4 linked regions of the Homo sapiens genome follow. The protein of the gene in region 3 purifies or fractionates together with the protein of the main gene of each other region. This does not show direct contact. Each region holds a gene or a part of one and is shown on either strand. Other genes may lie near its edges.

Region 1 (3,500 bases), on a different chromosome or scaffold from region 3:
TGGTTTTAAACTCCTAGGCTCAAGCAATCCTCCTGCCTCAGCCTCTCAAAATTCTGGTATCACAGGCAGAAGTCACGGACCTGGCCAAGCTGTGCTTTTTCTAGAATAGACCACTGACTTCAAGTTCCTCTGTAATTATACAACTGGTCACAAACCTATGTCAATTTAAAACCCAGGACTCTCCACGCTGAGGGAAACTCTCACTCTCTTCTCTCCGTTAGCCAGTTACAAGCGGCGGTGAAGCCCTTGGTACTTACGGGATCTGCAAACCGCCAGGGGAGGGTTCCATTGGTGATCCGATTGGCACTGGCTCTGGGGACTGCCTTCCAGCATATACCCATCTTCACACTCCAGAGTTACAACAGCTCCATACTGATACATTTTCCTTGGTTCCAGCCCTTTCTGGATTCCATCCATATCTGCTGGTGAGCTACAGTTTACCTCTGAAATTAAAGAAATCTAATTCAAGCACAGTCATATTTTGGCCTTTTACCAAGAAAGCAGAAATTTCCCTTAATAGAAAGATTTATAAAACCAACCTGTTTCACTCTCAGTAAGGAAAGCTGCACTGAAATAGGATAAGACTATATCCTAGACACAATCTTTTACTGTCAGCCCTCTATCTCAATAACCTCTGGGTAATTTAAGCCAGATTATATTTGTGTTTTTTGCTTCAGTTTCTATCCAAACAGTGATGGATAATTTTAATGGCTTCTTGGAGAAATGGTGAGGGCCGAATTGGTAATATTATGAAGTATTCTGAATTACTGTTATTTTCTGCTTCTAGTTTTACTCTCTAATTCTTCATACATGTGCGTGCTTTCTCATTTCTTTCTTCTTTTCAGTGTAGTCATCAATAGTGTGAGTGATATGGTTTGGCTGTGTCCCCACTCAAATCTCATGTTGAATTGTAGCTCCCATAATCCCCATGCGCCATGGGAGGGACCTGGTGAGAGGTCATTGGATCATGGGGGTGGGGTTTCCTGTGTTGTTTTTGTGATAGTAAATAAGTCTCATGAGATCTGATGGTTTATAAAGGACAGTTCTCCTGCACACGCTCTCTTGCCTGCCATCATGTAAGATGTGCCTTTGCTCCTCCTTCACCTTCTGCCATGATTGTGAGGCTTCCCCAGCCATGTGAAACTGTGAGTCCATTAAATCTCTTTCCTTTATAAATTACCCAGTTTCAGATATGTCTTTATTAGCAGTGTGAGAATGGATTAACACAGTGAGATCTTGGATTTGAAGCCTGGCTCTAGTACTTCCTAGATGTGTGACTTTGGGTAAGTTCCAAATCTCTCCATGCTACTGAAACCTCATCTATAAAACAGGGATAATCATGGCACCAACCTCATGTGGCTCTCATGAAGACTAAATGAAATAATGCATGTCAGGTGCTGTGCACAGTGTCTGGCATAGAGTAAAAAGTGTTCAATGAATACTAGACACTAATTTACTAGTCATATTTCATATGCACTGTTTATGACAATGAAAATGACTTTCTGAAACTTTTATTAAAAATGTACCCATAATCCCACCAACACTCAGTAAATATTCTCAAAAGATTGCTGTGCTTTTTATTGGTACTTTATCAAATACACACTTAACATAACTGTAACTACAGTGTGTAAATACAATCTGTGCTTTGGTTGTTTAATTTACAGACATAACTCCAACTTTCTATGTGTAAATGACTACATAAGTGGTCATTCACCAGATAGACTACAGCCTGAGACATTTTTTCTTATTTTGAGATATTTAATGATTGTATTAATCTAATTAAAGCCTTTAATGTAATCAGACAGTTAATTCATTTCTTTGGCTATTTTAAGTTGAAAGTACCCAACTGAATATATCTATTTGGCACAAATTTGATATAAAAATAAGAATAAAAAATAGACAAAGCACCTTTACAATGAGGGGCAGGTTGGCTCCAGGTTCCCTCATGTGTGCAAAGAAGGAGTGCCTCTCCCACCAGCAGGTAGCCTTGGTCACAGCTGTACAGGATTGACATTCCAGGAGAAAATCGAGCTATGTTTCCACCAGTATGGTTCCCGTTAGGGGTCTTAGGCGGAGGTGGACACCCTATGAAGGCTTAGACACCAATAAGAAAGGGTCTTTAACTCAGCACAGAGGAACACATAGCCTGCACTATCTCTGGGTGATAGCGATACAGGAAGGCCAGAAGCAACAAGCCAACTAACTGGTATCCAAAAACATTCATTCATTCCACCCAGACCAGCAACACTGGATGGAGATCTGCATTTCCTACTGATAGCCAATATGATTTGAAGAAAAGTGTTAAAAAATAAGATAATGAAACATTAATGGATACAGTTCACAATGGTAATCCATCAGCCAACAGTTTTCTTTTCCTTTCCCTTTAAATAGCAGACATGGTTACACCTTCAAATGTCTACGAGAGCTAGGAAGTGAAGCCACCAGATACGACAAGTCAGAGAGCCCCTGTCCTTCTAAAAGTGGCAGCCACTGCTCAGCTCAAGTTACTGGTGCCTTGCTGGGAAGCAAAGGGGGTCTTGTGGCTCGCAAGCTCACTATTTATCTTAAACTGAAGATGGGTTTCACTTAAGATTACTGTGCTGGTCAAAGACAACCGTTGCCAAACAGCCTCTGCTGTAGATAGTCATGGACAGGAATAAGGCTGCCAAATGATAACTACAATTACAAGAAAGACAATTCAATGGGTTGGAGGGCCAATTAATTCTCCAGAACACCCAAAGTTCTCTTTCTGGCTGGCAACATAGCCTTAAATATCAAATAATTAGCAATATTACTGCCAAACATTTGCCAAAAATGTATGTGCATTTTTCTTACACTAAAGTCATAACAATAACAATTTTTGGAGATGCTATCAATTTGGAAGTTAGCCATTATCCTTTCATGTACTATTTATTGCTCAATATACTGAGAAAGGAAAGAGAAAACAAACAATCAAGTGAGAAGATAGGAAAAGGCAAATATCTTGTAAAACAATATAACTGCCTTAGCTCTTAGATGCTTTTCTTTAGGCAGAATGTCAAGTGCAGATTCAAAACCTCTTTTCTTTATTCTGTACAACATCCCATAACTTATCCCTTCCAAGTATCTTACCTTTTTTGATACAAGTTGGCACACCTGGCACCCATGTGTTATCAGTATGACACCTAATCACGCGACTACCATTCATGATGAAGCCAGGATTGCAGTCAACATACACTATGTCATTGTGGGAATATGCAGAATGTGTTTTATTGAGCTTGTACCCATGTTTGACTTCTGGATTAGGGCAGCGAGTCACAGGAGGAGATCGTAAGCACTGTGGGGAAGGCCCGCTCCAAGATCCATGTCCTTTAGAATCACTTCTGCACTGCAATTTTTTCTCTCCCAGGAGATAGAATCCTTGGTCACATTCATAAGAGACTTCATTTCCATATAGAAAGTTTTCTGCCATCATGCCTGTGTGCTTCCCATTGACAATCACTGGTGGAGGGTGACAGTGA
Region 2 (3,500 bases), on a different chromosome or scaffold from region 3:
GTGTGTATAGATAAATGTACATACAAATATATATGTTTCCCATATATACATACACTTCTCTCATTGCATCCTGCTGTCTTTGTGTATCTCTGTATTTCTCCCACTATCTTCAGAGGGAATTCTTTAGTCTTTAGAAAGCTCTCTGCTGGGTGCAGTGGCTCATGCCTGAAATCTCAGCACTTTGTGAGGCTGAGGTGGGAGGATCACTTGAGGTCAGGAGTTCAAGGCCAGCTTGGACAACATAGCAAGACCCCTATCTCTAAAAAGAATAAAAAATTAAACAAATTTTAAAATAAAAAATAACTTTTAAAAGAAGGCTCTCATGCCCCCTTAGTAATGCTTTCTGATCACTGTGGTGAGTTCTAGAATACTTGGCTTTCTCTGACTCAAGTAAATGGGTTTTTGAGCACCCTGAAACCCTCTACGCCTGGGAGGGGGCCTGCGTCTGGATCCCCTGCACCTACAGAGCCCTAGATGGTGACCTGGAAAGCTTCATCCTGTTCCACAATCCTGAGTATAACAAGAACACCTCGAAGTTTGATGGGACAAGACTCTATGAAAGCACAAAGGATGGGAAGGTTCCTTCTGAGCAGAAAAGGGTGCAATTCCTGGGAGACAAGAATAAGAACTGCACACTGAGTATCCACCCGGTGCACCTCAATGACAGTGGTCAGCTGGGGCTGAGGATGGAGTCCAAGACTGAGAAATGGATGGAACGAATACACCTCAATGTCTCTGGTAAGGCCTTCGGGGAGCGGGTCCTCTGCTCTGGGCAGGGGTGAGTGGGAGGCAGGAAATACCTGACTCCTGGCACAGAGCTCACAAACCGAGCTTCCTGCAGAGCTCAGGCAGGGGACGCCAGCGGATGACGATGGCGATGCAGCAGCACTAGACAGAGCTGCGGGACCTCGGATGTCCCATCTGACCCTCAGTTCCTGCCCCTCTGGGACCTGGATTCCAAAGTTATCGGATCTCCTGATCTTTCCCTCTTTCTTTCTCACCATGTATTTTTCAGCTTTTGTGACAAACTCGTGTTTGGCCTTAGTACTGGAACCATCCAAGCACCGCATTCCTTTAGTGGGGTGGGTCTGCATGTAACCAGCCTCAGCTCTCCCCCAGGCTGGACCGCCCCCTTCAGACATTGGGGTCTGAAGCTGCATCGCTCACCCCAAACTTAGGGCTGCTCAGAGCTCCCTATAGAGGAAACTGGGTGTGGAACGGAGTAACCACACTCCCTAGGGCAGAGGCCCCAGACCTGTGTTTGATGGGTCAAATCCACCCCTACATGTGCAGTGCCATAACTGAGCCTGTGTTATAAAAATCATAAAATGTTTGTTTTACTTTTTTTCCTCTTCTTTTCCCCTTCCCCTTCCTTTCCCTTTTTATGAGACAGGGTCTCGCACTGTCATCACCCAGGCTGGAGTGCAGTGGCGCGATCTCAGCTCACTGCAGCCTTGATCTCCCGGGTTCAAGCAATCCTCCCACCTCCAAAGTAGCTAGGATCACAGGTGCATGCCACCATGCCCAGCTAACTTTTTAATTTGTTGTAGAAATGGGTCTTGCTATGTTGCCAGGCTGGTCTTGAACTCCTGGCCTCAAGCAATCCTCCTGCTTCAACCTCTCAAAGCATTAGGATTACAGGCATGAGTCACCGCACCCGGCCTGATCTTCTGATTTTTCAAGAGACGATGGAAATCTAGATTTTCCAGTGAAATCTCCCAGCATGTTAATGTTCATGGCAAGTTCTCATGAGCTCTTCAAGGTCAGATGACACTGTTGTTGAACCCCAAAGGCCAGGTTTGAGCTCCCGATGCGTAGTCAGCCAAACACTGACACCTCAGTGCTTAGAAGCTGAGATAGGATTATTTAATTTAGCCAAAGCAAGGGGACAGAAGAGAGAAACTCTCAAATCTGACCTGACTTTGAGCGTTAGTGGGGGCTTTTATGAGTAAAGTAGGTGTGCAGGAGGTGACCTCCCGATCGTCAAAGCTGTTGTGCCCCTCGGCTCATCAAATTTCTGGATGTCATCAAGGAGGTCTGTGTGACCTAAGGATCATTGTTCTTTGAAAGAGAGACAAGTTCATTTATCTTGCAGGCAGCTGCCAGGGAGTCAGGATGTAAGTTAAACAATTATGAGTGAATTAATGGTTACCTGCTACTGAAATGACCAAATGTAACTAATCATGCATGGAGGAAGGAAAGGACAAAGAGAAAAGAAAAGAAGTAAAACGAACATCTTATAATTTTTATAACATAGGTTCAGTTATAGCACTGCACATGTAGGGGTGGCTTTGACCCATCAAACACAGGTGTGGGGGGCCCCTGCCACAGGGAGTGTGGTCACTCCGTTCCACACCGTTTCCCGGATGGGCAGTTCTGAGCAGCCTTAAATTTGGGGTGAGCAATGCAACTTCAGACCCCGCTGTCTGAAGGAGGTGGTCCAGCCTTGGGGAGAGCTGAGGCTGGGTGCACACAGACCCACTCCACTAAAGGAATGCGGTGCGTGGATGGCTGCAATACTGAAGGAAGCCATGAAAGTAACACAAGTTTGTCAAAGCTGAAAAGTCCGTGAACTAAACTGATAAAATTCACTTAGAGGTGGTGGGAATAGGCCGGGCACGGTGGCTCACGCCTGTAATCCCAGAACTTTGGGAGGCCGAGGCAGGCGGATCACAAGGTCAGGAGATCGAGACCATCCTGACTAACACAGTGAAACCCTGTCTCTACTAAAAATGCAAAAAGTTAGCCAGGCGTGGTGGCAGGCGCCTGTAGTCCCAGCTACTCAGGAGGCTGAGGCAGGAGAATGGCGTGAACCCGGAAGGTGGAGCTTGCAGTGAGCTGAGATCACGCCACTACACTCCAGTCCGGGCGACAGAGCGAGACTCTGTCTCAAAAAAAAAAAAAAAAAAAAAAGAGGTGGTGAGGTGGTGGGAATAGAACTTTGCAATCATTCAGAAAGCAGACATCCGGCAATGAGCATGAAAGAAAAGTAGATCACAGTTCCCAAGGAGGCTTAGTGTGGTCAAGGCCTTTCAGAGGGGATTTCGGGTGAGCAAAAGTGATTCAAAGTGGAGAAAAGCAGGACTGCGTTGGGTGCAGTGGTTCCCGCCTGTAACCCCAGCACTTTGGGAGGCTGAGATCGGAGGATCGTTTGAGCCCAGGAGTTTGAGACCAGCCTGGGTAACATGGCAAGACCCTGTCTCTACAAAATGTTTAAAAAACTAGCTAGGTGTGGTGGCACATGCCTGTAGTCCCAGTTACTCAGGGGGCTGAGGTGAGAGGATTGCTTGAGCCTAGGAGGTTGAGGCTACAGTGAGCTAGGATTGCGCCACTGCACTCCAGCCTGGGTGACAAAGCAAGACCCTGTCTCTAAAGAAAAAAAGAGGCCGGGTGTGGTGGCTTACACCTGTAATCCCAGCACTTTGGGAGGCCAAGGCGGGAGGATCACTTGAGGTCAGGAGTTCAAGACCAGCCTGGCCAACATGGCGAAACCCTGTCTC
Region 3 (4,069 bases):
TTGGATCAAGTTTGGAGTGAAAGTTGGGGTTGGGTTTGTGAATTGCAGTTAGGATAGCATGATAGGATTGCATGGAGAGAGAATTGGCAGAACACTGTGACCAGTTTGTTGGACGGGGTGAGGAAAAAGAAGGATGCCCAGGTTCTTAGCCTGGGCGAGGGAGCAGGTGGTGGTGCCCTCTGCTTACACTGGGCCACCAAGAAGACTATACTTGGGGAAGACATTGAGTTTGATTTTGTATCTGTTGAGCCTGAGGTGTCCATGGGATATCAAATGGCACAGGAGATGGCTGAGTATGGAGCCTGGAATAGAGTCACCAAGGCATGGTGACCCAAGAAGCCATTGAGAGTCAAGTTCAAATAGGAAAGTGTGCAGACAGGGATAAGAAGAGGGCCCAGGGCTCCAAGAGTGAGGAGTTGGGGAGGAAGGAAGACTCCACCCAAGCTGGTGGGCAGGCGCAAGCAATGGTAGGTGAAGACCCAGAAAAGTAGTGTCTTGGAAGCGAGGGAAGAAAGACTTGAAGTCTAGGCCAGGTGCGGTGGCTTATGCCTGTAATCCCAGTACTTTGGGAGGCCAAGGCAGGCAGATCACCTGAAGTCAGGAGTTCAAGACCAGCCTGGTCCAACAGGGAGAAACCCCATCTCTACTAAAAATACAAAATTAGGCTTGGCCCGGCCCTGTGGCTCATGTCTGTAATCCCAGCACTTTGGGAGGCCGAGGCGGGTGGATCACGAGGTCAGGAGTTTGAGACCAGCCTGGCCAACATAATGAAACCCCATCTCTACTAAAAATACAAAAAAAATTAGCCAGGCTTTAATCCCAGCTACTCGGGAGGCTGAGGCAGGAGAATCACTTGAACCTGGAAGGTGGAGGTTGCAGTGAGCTGAGATCGTGCCACTGCACTCCAGCCTGGGTGACAGTGCAAGACTCCGTCTCAAAAAAAAAAAAAAAATTAGCCAGGCGTGGTGGTGGGCACCTGTAATCCCAGCTACTCAGGAGGCTGAGGCAGGGGAATCACTTGAACCTGGGAGGCGGAGGTTGCAGTGAGCCAAGACAAGATGGCACCACTGCACTCCAGCCTAGGCAACAGAGCGAGACTCTGTCAAAAAAAAGAAAGACTTGGAGTCAGTGTTCTGTGTGGAAGTTGGGGTTTGGGGTGAGGCTGGGAGTAGCCCTCGGGTTGGGGGAATCTAAGATTGACTGGCTTCCACTTCTTCCCAGTACCCCCACACAGATGCCTCCCAGTTGAGAGAAACTCTACCTGGCCGAGCAGTGATCTCCAGGTGGAATGACATGGTCAGGTTGCCACGGTGACAATAATACTTTCCAGCGTCTTGAGCTGTGGCCCGGGGCAACAACAGACCCGTCTCCATTACCCACATATCTCTGGCCGGGCGATCGTCCTTCAGCTCTAGGCTCAGCAATGACTTAGGCCCCTTGGGGTGCACATGGGTCCAGGAGAGGGGGCCCCTGGACACAGAGTCAGGGGGTACCCCACAGGACAGCCAGAGTGTGGAGCCAGGGGCCATGGTGAGGTCTGGGACAGGGAGAGATAAGACAAGGAAAGCCTGATCCTCAGGGTTTCACCTCTTCAGTTTCCCCTCCCCTCTGTCTCTGGACCCCCGCTTCCCGGCATCTCCCCAGTCATCACCATACCCTGGCTGAGGCTCTGGTTCAGGCTGTCCCTCGGTGGGAGACACGGAGGCTCTCCCTCCCAGATCTCAGGGCGGTCTTTGGCCCACACATACAGCTTGGGGCTCATGAGCTTCCCGGAAGGGGAGCTGGGGCCCTCTGAGGACCTGTTCTTCAGGCCACAGCCCAGGCCACCTAGGTCCGAAACATTCCACCGGAACAGCTCCCCTGGGAAGAGACCCAGAACCAAATGCAGAGACACCCAGGAGAGGGAGAGAGATAGAGACTCAAAGACAGAGATAAATAGAGACAAAGACCCGCAGAGAGAGAGAAGACAGTGAGAGGTAGAGGGACAGGAAGCAGCTCATACTGAAGCCACGAAGCCCCAGGAGTCTGCCCACCTAGCTCCGAGTTTCGCCCTCAATCCCTCCAGCCCCTCTCTCCAGCTCCATTGTGGCCGCGGACCTCTTCTGTCCATGGTGGCCTCCCTTCTCTCCTCCTGCCCCTGCCCCAGCCCGGCCCTCACCGCTGCCCTCCACATTGACTGTCCAGCCAGGCTGCCAGGCCTTCTCAGAGGGGGGCCCCGGCTGGCACAGGTAGAAGCCCCCCATCTGTTGAGAGACGTTGAAGATGAAAAGCCAGATGGCCAGGGGCCTCATGTGGATTCCCAGGCCTGGCAGCCCCAGGCTGAGTTTTAAGAAGGGTTTAAGCGGGGACTCCCGAGACCAGGTCAGCTGCTGAGTGGGGCCATCTGAGGTCCCCTTGAGGCACTGCAGCACAGCGTTATCTCCCTCTGTGGAGAGAGAGGGAGAGAGGTGTGGGCATGGGTGGGGGGGACCTCCAAGCCCCCCGACTCCTCACACCAGGTTATAGAGCAGAGGACTCCAAAAGCTGGGAGTGGAGGAGCCGGCAGAGTCCTTCCAACCCTTTCCTGAATTTTACAAATAAGAAAATGGAGGCTCAGAGAGGGTAAGTTACTCAGCCAAGGACACCCAGCCACAACTCAAGTTTCCAGCCTCAATCCCTTCCCTTTCTGCCCTTTGGACATACCTTCCACCTTCACCACTAGAGGTTCCTCGGGCCTGACTTCCATGGGGGTGAGGAAGAGGAGGAAGAAGAGGAGGCGAGGAGGTGGCATGGTGGTCAGACTCTCCGGGGCACCCAGCTTCGCGCAGGGGATGCTGGGGCAGGCAGGGGCCTGGAGGGCACTCAACCATGGGTGTCTGCGGGGGCGGCAGGCAGTCCCCCCAGAGAGGAAGGCGGTGGTCACGCCTCAGGCCCCATTCTCCAGGAACCCTCCAGACTCACAACACTTGCCTCCTCCCTGCCACGCTGTTTTATTTTCATCCCAGCTCTCACTACCACGGGAAATGATCTTGTGTGTTTATTTGTTCATTTCTGTTTTCTGCACAAGAATGTGAGCCCCTTGGAGTAGAGACCGTGTTGTTCACCACTAATTGCAAGTGCTCTAGAACAATGCTGGGCACATAGACTCCTTCTCAAAAAAAAAAAAAAAAATTAGCCGGGCATGGTGGCGCACACCTGTAATCCCAGCTACTTAGGAGGCTGAGGCAGGAGAATCACTGGAAACCAGGAGGCGGAGGTTGCAGTGAGCCGAGATCACACCACTGCACTCCAGCCTGGGCACCAGAGTGAGACTCTGTTTCAAAAAAAAAAAAGAAAAGAAAACAGTCCTATACAAATATTGTTTGTGAAGATTAAAAATGACAATATGTTCAGCACTATTAGCCCAGTGTCCAGCACATCATAAGCCCTCAGTTAATGAGATACAGCTTCAATTAATGCCTAAGAGCTCAAGTCATACTGCCTCAGTTTAAAACCAGGCAAAAGCCAGGCACAGTGGTACACGCCTATGGTCCCAGGTCCTTGGGAGGCTGAGGTAGAAGGATCGCTTGAGCCCAGGAGTTCAAGGCTGCAGTGCACCATGATTATGCCTGGGAATAGCCACTGTGCTCCAGTCCGGGCAACACAACAAGACCCTGTCTCTAAAAGAAAAATTGTTTTAAAAGAACCCAGGAGTTCTAACTCCTAAATCTGTTCTTATTCTGCCCCATGCCTCTCCTCTCTGTCTCTCTCTTTCTCTGTCACTCTCTATGTGCCTCTGTGTCTTTTTCACTGCTGCAGGGACTCAGAAAAAGAATTCAGGGACCCAAGAGACCCACTTTCTCAGTGGCTGATTCCCAGGCCCATCTCACCAGGCTGTGACTTCCTGTTTGCTGTGGGCAAGCCCCAGGGGACCCTCCCTACAGGTGGCAGGGCCTCCACTTCCCTTTGGCCAGTTGAGGCGGCTGGGAGGCGGAAGAATGAGGCATGAATGAAGGGGAATGAAGGGGGCGAGTAGCAGGACTCAATCTGCCTTTCATTCAACAAAATCTCTCTAATCCCCTCATTAGCTACCCAGCTGCCCAGACTGGCT
Region 4 (3,973 bases), on a different chromosome or scaffold from region 3:
GTGGTTCCTCACCAGTTCTTACCAGTTTGGGTTTCCCAGTAATGATAGGCTGGTCCCTTTTTACAAGGAGCAGGAGTTGCTTTTGCAAACAGAAGGGGAAGAAAAGAAGAAGAAATAGCCCAGTAAATCCTTTAAGTTCACAATGGCCGGACCCTGCTTTAGTGAAACCATGTGTACTAGTGAGTTCTCTGTCAATATATACTCAATATCTGCACCAGGGAGTGCCTGGGTATGGAAAAAGGGGTGGGGTTGGGCACGGTGACACATGCACTTTAGACTTTGGTGTCCCGGGTTTCTAGGTCCCGAGGCTCTGTCATGGATGACTAATTGTATGTCATCCATGCCAGCCCTACCCCATTGCAGGAACTGCCTGGGGCACCTATGTGAGACTGGAAAGGGGCCCCTGAATAACACCAGCCCTGGCCCAGTGGAGTCTCAAAGGGCATCTTTGGGCTCACTCCATAGATGGGGAAACAGGCTGGGAAGCCAGGCCGTGCATCGCAGTTCAACCTCAGACCCTTCCCACAATCCAGGAGTGATGGGGGAACTGAGGTCTCCTGGGCCCCTCCTCTGGGGACTTCCTGGACCCCCACACCTTCAGGCTGGTCAGAGCTCTTCTCCAAGTCTTGTACTTAGAGCTCAGAAATATTCATGATATTATTTCTGTGTGCAAAGATACATGCTATAAATGATAACATAATGAGCTGCATAATTAGGACTAGGATCAATATGCCAGGTCCTGTGTGCAGCCTGGCCACCATCTGTCCATCTAAACTCTATATGTGTGCTGAGAAGTAGGGCTGCATTAGCTCCATTTTTATGGATAGGAAAATTGAGGCACAGAGAGGCCTAGAAATCCACCTAAGAAAGGTTGGGTGGGAGCCTAGTTCCTGTCTTTAACTCCCAGCTGATGAGATTTCCTTTAGTTTGCCACGTTGGTAGTGACCTCACCATCATGAGGAGCAATCAAGGCAAGCCAGATTCCCACCAGGAAGAGGGTCCACAATAGGCATCCTCCCTGGCTCATGGGGTTGGGGGAGTGAGCAAATTCCTGCTTGCTCTGGGCCTCAGAGGCTGGTGGCAGGAGGAAATGTCACTCAGTGAGCCCTTACTTGCTCCTCCTGGGCTGACCTGGCTTGTCTGGATTCCTGAACTCTGGCCTGGAACAGAGAAGCACCAAGGCCCCCTTTTGGTTCTCCCACACCCAGAGCACCTGCCAGGAAATGCCACACCCTAGGGGTGAGAGTGAGGGAGGGTGTCCAGGCTGGACTGAGCAAACACCCAACTGCTCACCTAGGCCATATGGGGGCCCAGCTGCCTGACCTGGGGGCCACACCTCTTCCTCCTGACACCAGCCCTGCCTGGTGTCACCTTGAGAACAGGCCAGTGGGAGGAAGTGATGGCCCCCAGGGCTGGCCCCAGACCTAGACGGCCAGGTGGCTTCCCATGGGCCCTGAATCCCAGATCTGGACTGCAGGAGTCCCCCGCCCAAGTTGAGGGGCGACCTCAGTTTCCTCTTGAGAAGTGTCCATTTAAAAAAATCAGAGCTGGGCATAGTGGCTCATGCCTGAAATCCCAGCACTTTCAGATGCCAAGGCAGGAGGATTGCTTGGGCCCAGGAGTTTGAGACCAGCCTGGACAACATAGTGAGACCCCGTCTCCACACACAAAAAAATTTTAAAATTAGCTGCCTGTGGTGTGCACCTGTAGTCCCAGCTACTCGGGAGGCTGAGGTGGGAGGATCACTTGAGCCCAGGAGGTTGAGGCTGCAGTGAATACAGTGCATGGAGCCACTGTACTCCAGCCTGGGTGACAAAGTGAGTCCCCCACCTCTACAAATAAAACAAACAAACAAAAAGTTTAAATCTGACCCAGAGGAAAAGATGGTCGGGATTCTTGGAACAGGAGTGAATCTGAACAGTGGCTACAGACATAATTAATATAATTATGATGACAGCTGACTGTCCCTGGGCACCCACTGAGTGGCCACAGCTCCTATCCACTCAACTCATCCTCGCCAAGGTCCCATGCCATGAGACCCCCCCTTAACACACAGGGAAACTGAGGCTCAGAGACCTAACGCCAGTCACGCAAGGGCCCCCAGTGGCCAGCAGTACACCTCATCACAAAAATTTCCTTTGACTAAACGCTTCGGGCATCCTCATCCCAGCTGGTTCATTGTTCCACCTCACGGAGGGGAAACTGAGGCCGGTTCAGCAATGTGTCCATGCCACGCAGCCAGGGCCCCTGGAATGCCGCCCAGCCACCTGGCAGGGCCTGCAGCACCGGAACCGCAGGGAGAGACTGGGGGTCACCTGCAGTTCCCAAACCCAACCGGGGACCCCAGCGCTGGCTTGCCCAGATACTCCCAACCAAGGGGCCAATAATCTCAACAACACAGGTAACAGTAACAGCCAAGTCTGACTAAGCGGCATCCGCCTCGGGGGTCTGATCCCGCCCAATCTGGGAGGGGCGCCGGGGTCCCGGGTCGCCAGCTGTGGGGGAGGCTTCCTCCCCGACCCAGGTCCGAGCTGGCCTTGGGAACGCCGGAGACAATTACGGATGGGTGAGGGCAACCGGGTTCTCGAGACTCGGGGCTCCCGAATGTTCCCACATCTGCAGGGTATGCGCGGTGGAGACCGGCAGGGGCTTCTCCAGAGCCACAACTTCCCCACCCCCAAACCCCCACCACTGGGGTCCGCCAGATCCTCCGGGGGCTGCCGACACTCACCCCCAGACGACAGTCCCGCCTCTGCCCCTCTACCTGCTCCTCTCAGCTCGCGAGCCGAAGAAAGAGTTTTTACCTGAGCCAGAGCTCCCGCCCCTCTCCCGCTTCCTCCCTCCCACCGGGCCTCACGCCTTCCTGCCTCCCTCCGCCTTGGCCGCTTGCCAGTCCCCCTCTTCCCAGCTCGGCTGAGTTTCCTGGTGGCCCAGGCGAAGTTCTCTGCCGGCTCCTCCCTCCCCGGCCATGCCTCTTCCCCTCTCCGGTCCCGGCTGCCACCTCTGCCATCCCGCTCTTGCCACCCTCGCCCCTCTCGGGGCTCACGACCCCACCTTGGGTCTGGCCCGCTGCTAGGGAATGAGCTCCCCGTGGCTGGAGATGAACAAGCAGCGCCTTGCGGGTTCCTGGCACAGAGCCCGGTCAGCGTTGGCCCACGTGTGTTCCGTGAAGAAATGATTGGATAAGCCCATGGCGATAAGGAGGGAGGGAGGCAGGTTAAACCTTGCGGCACCTCTGCTCTCTGCGGGGAGTTCAAAGATTCCTGAAGCTGGGGTCGGCGCAGTGGCTCACTCCTGTACTTCCAGAGGCCGAGGGGGGCGGATCGCTGGAACCCAGGAGTTTGAGACCAGCCTGGGCAACATAGTGAGATTCCATCTCTATATTGAAAATAATTCCAGGACCCGAAAACCTACGATGTGCCCCCAGACATCCAGATGCCACCTGCTGGCATTTGGAAGGGTTCTGGAAGTCAACAATCAGACAGATTTGTAGTCTTTTCTTTTTCTTTTTTTCTTGTTTTGAGAGACAGGATCTCGCTTTGTCACCCAGGCTAGAGTACAGTGGTGTGATCTCCGCTCGCTACAATGTCGACCTCCCCAGTTCAAGCAATCCTCCCACCTCAGCCTCCCGAGTAGCTGGGACTACAGGCACCCGCCAGCATGCCTGGCTAATTTTTGTCATTTTTCTAGATATGGGGTTTTGATATGTTGCCCAGGCTGGTCTTAACTGTGGGCCTCAAGTGACCTTCCTGCCTCAGATCCCCAAGGTGCTGGATTATAGATGTGAGCCACTGCACCTGGCCTCAGATTTGTAGATTTTTAGGGTTGGGTTGGCTAGGATTCGAACCCTGCCCTGTGCTGCCTCTGAATCTCTAGGAGATTCTAGCCTGGACCCAGCGTTGGGAGCTCTGGGGTTGGGGAAGTCCAGGTGTGTGAGCTGGGCTATGGTTTCAGGAAACCCCTCCTTCCTCCT

The links. The genes of interacting proteins can lie anywhere in the genome.
Region 1: the proteins of CD19 (region 3) and CR2 purify together in Homo sapiens (affinity purification with western blotting, with the first as the bait; 2 studies listed by BioGRID). This does not show direct contact.
Region 2: the proteins of CD19 (region 3) and CD22 purify together in Homo sapiens (affinity purification with western blotting, with the first as the bait; one study listed by BioGRID). This does not show direct contact.
Region 4: the proteins of CD19 (region 3) and B3GNT3 purify together in Homo sapiens (affinity purification with mass spectrometry; 3 studies listed by BioGRID and IntAct, with this or other methods). This does not show direct contact.

The regions. Positions count from the first base shown.
Region 1 is NC_000001.11:207,474,828-207,478,327, reverse strand, and holds part of CR2 (complement receptor type 2 isoform 1 precursor), read right to left. Parts: coding exon 3,112-3,500; intron 2,095-3,111; coding exon 1,909-2,094; intron 444-1,908; coding exon 258-443; intron 1-257. UniProt on the Homo sapiens protein: Serves as a receptor for various ligands including complement component CD3d, HNRNPU OR IFNA1. When C3d is bound to antigens, attaches to C3d on B-cell surface and thereby facilitates the recognition and uptake of antigens by B-cells.
Region 2 is NC_000019.10:35,332,187-35,335,686, forward strand, and holds part of CD22 (B-cell receptor CD22 isoform 1 precursor), read left to right. Parts: intron 1-360; coding exon 361-738; intron 739-3,500. UniProt on the Homo sapiens protein: Most highly expressed siglec (sialic acid-binding immunoglobulin-like lectin) on B-cells that plays a role in various aspects of B-cell biology including differentiation, antigen presentation, and trafficking to bone marrow.
Region 3 is NC_000016.10:28,930,702-28,934,770, reverse strand, and holds the start of CD19 (B-lymphocyte antigen CD19 isoform 2 precursor), read right to left. Parts: upstream 2,801-4,069; 5' UTR 2,771-2,800; coding exon 2,683-2,770; intron 2,426-2,682; coding exon 2,159-2,425; exon of another isoform or gene 1,861-2,158; coding exon 1,657-1,860; intron 1,538-1,656; coding exon 1,262-1,537; intron 1-1,261. UniProt on the Homo sapiens protein: Functions as a coreceptor for the B-cell antigen receptor complex (BCR) on B-lymphocytes. Decreases the threshold for activation of downstream signaling pathways and for triggering B-cell responses to antigens.
Region 4 is NC_000019.10:17,793,965-17,797,937, reverse strand, and holds the start of B3GNT3 (N-acetyllactosaminide beta-1,3-N-acetylglucosaminyltransferase 3), read right to left. Parts: upstream 2,801-3,973; 5' UTR 2,732-2,800; exon of another isoform or gene 23-2,731; intron 1-22. UniProt on the Homo sapiens protein: Beta-1,3-N-acetylglucosaminyltransferase involved in the synthesis of poly-N-acetyllactosamine. Has activity for type 2 oligosaccharides.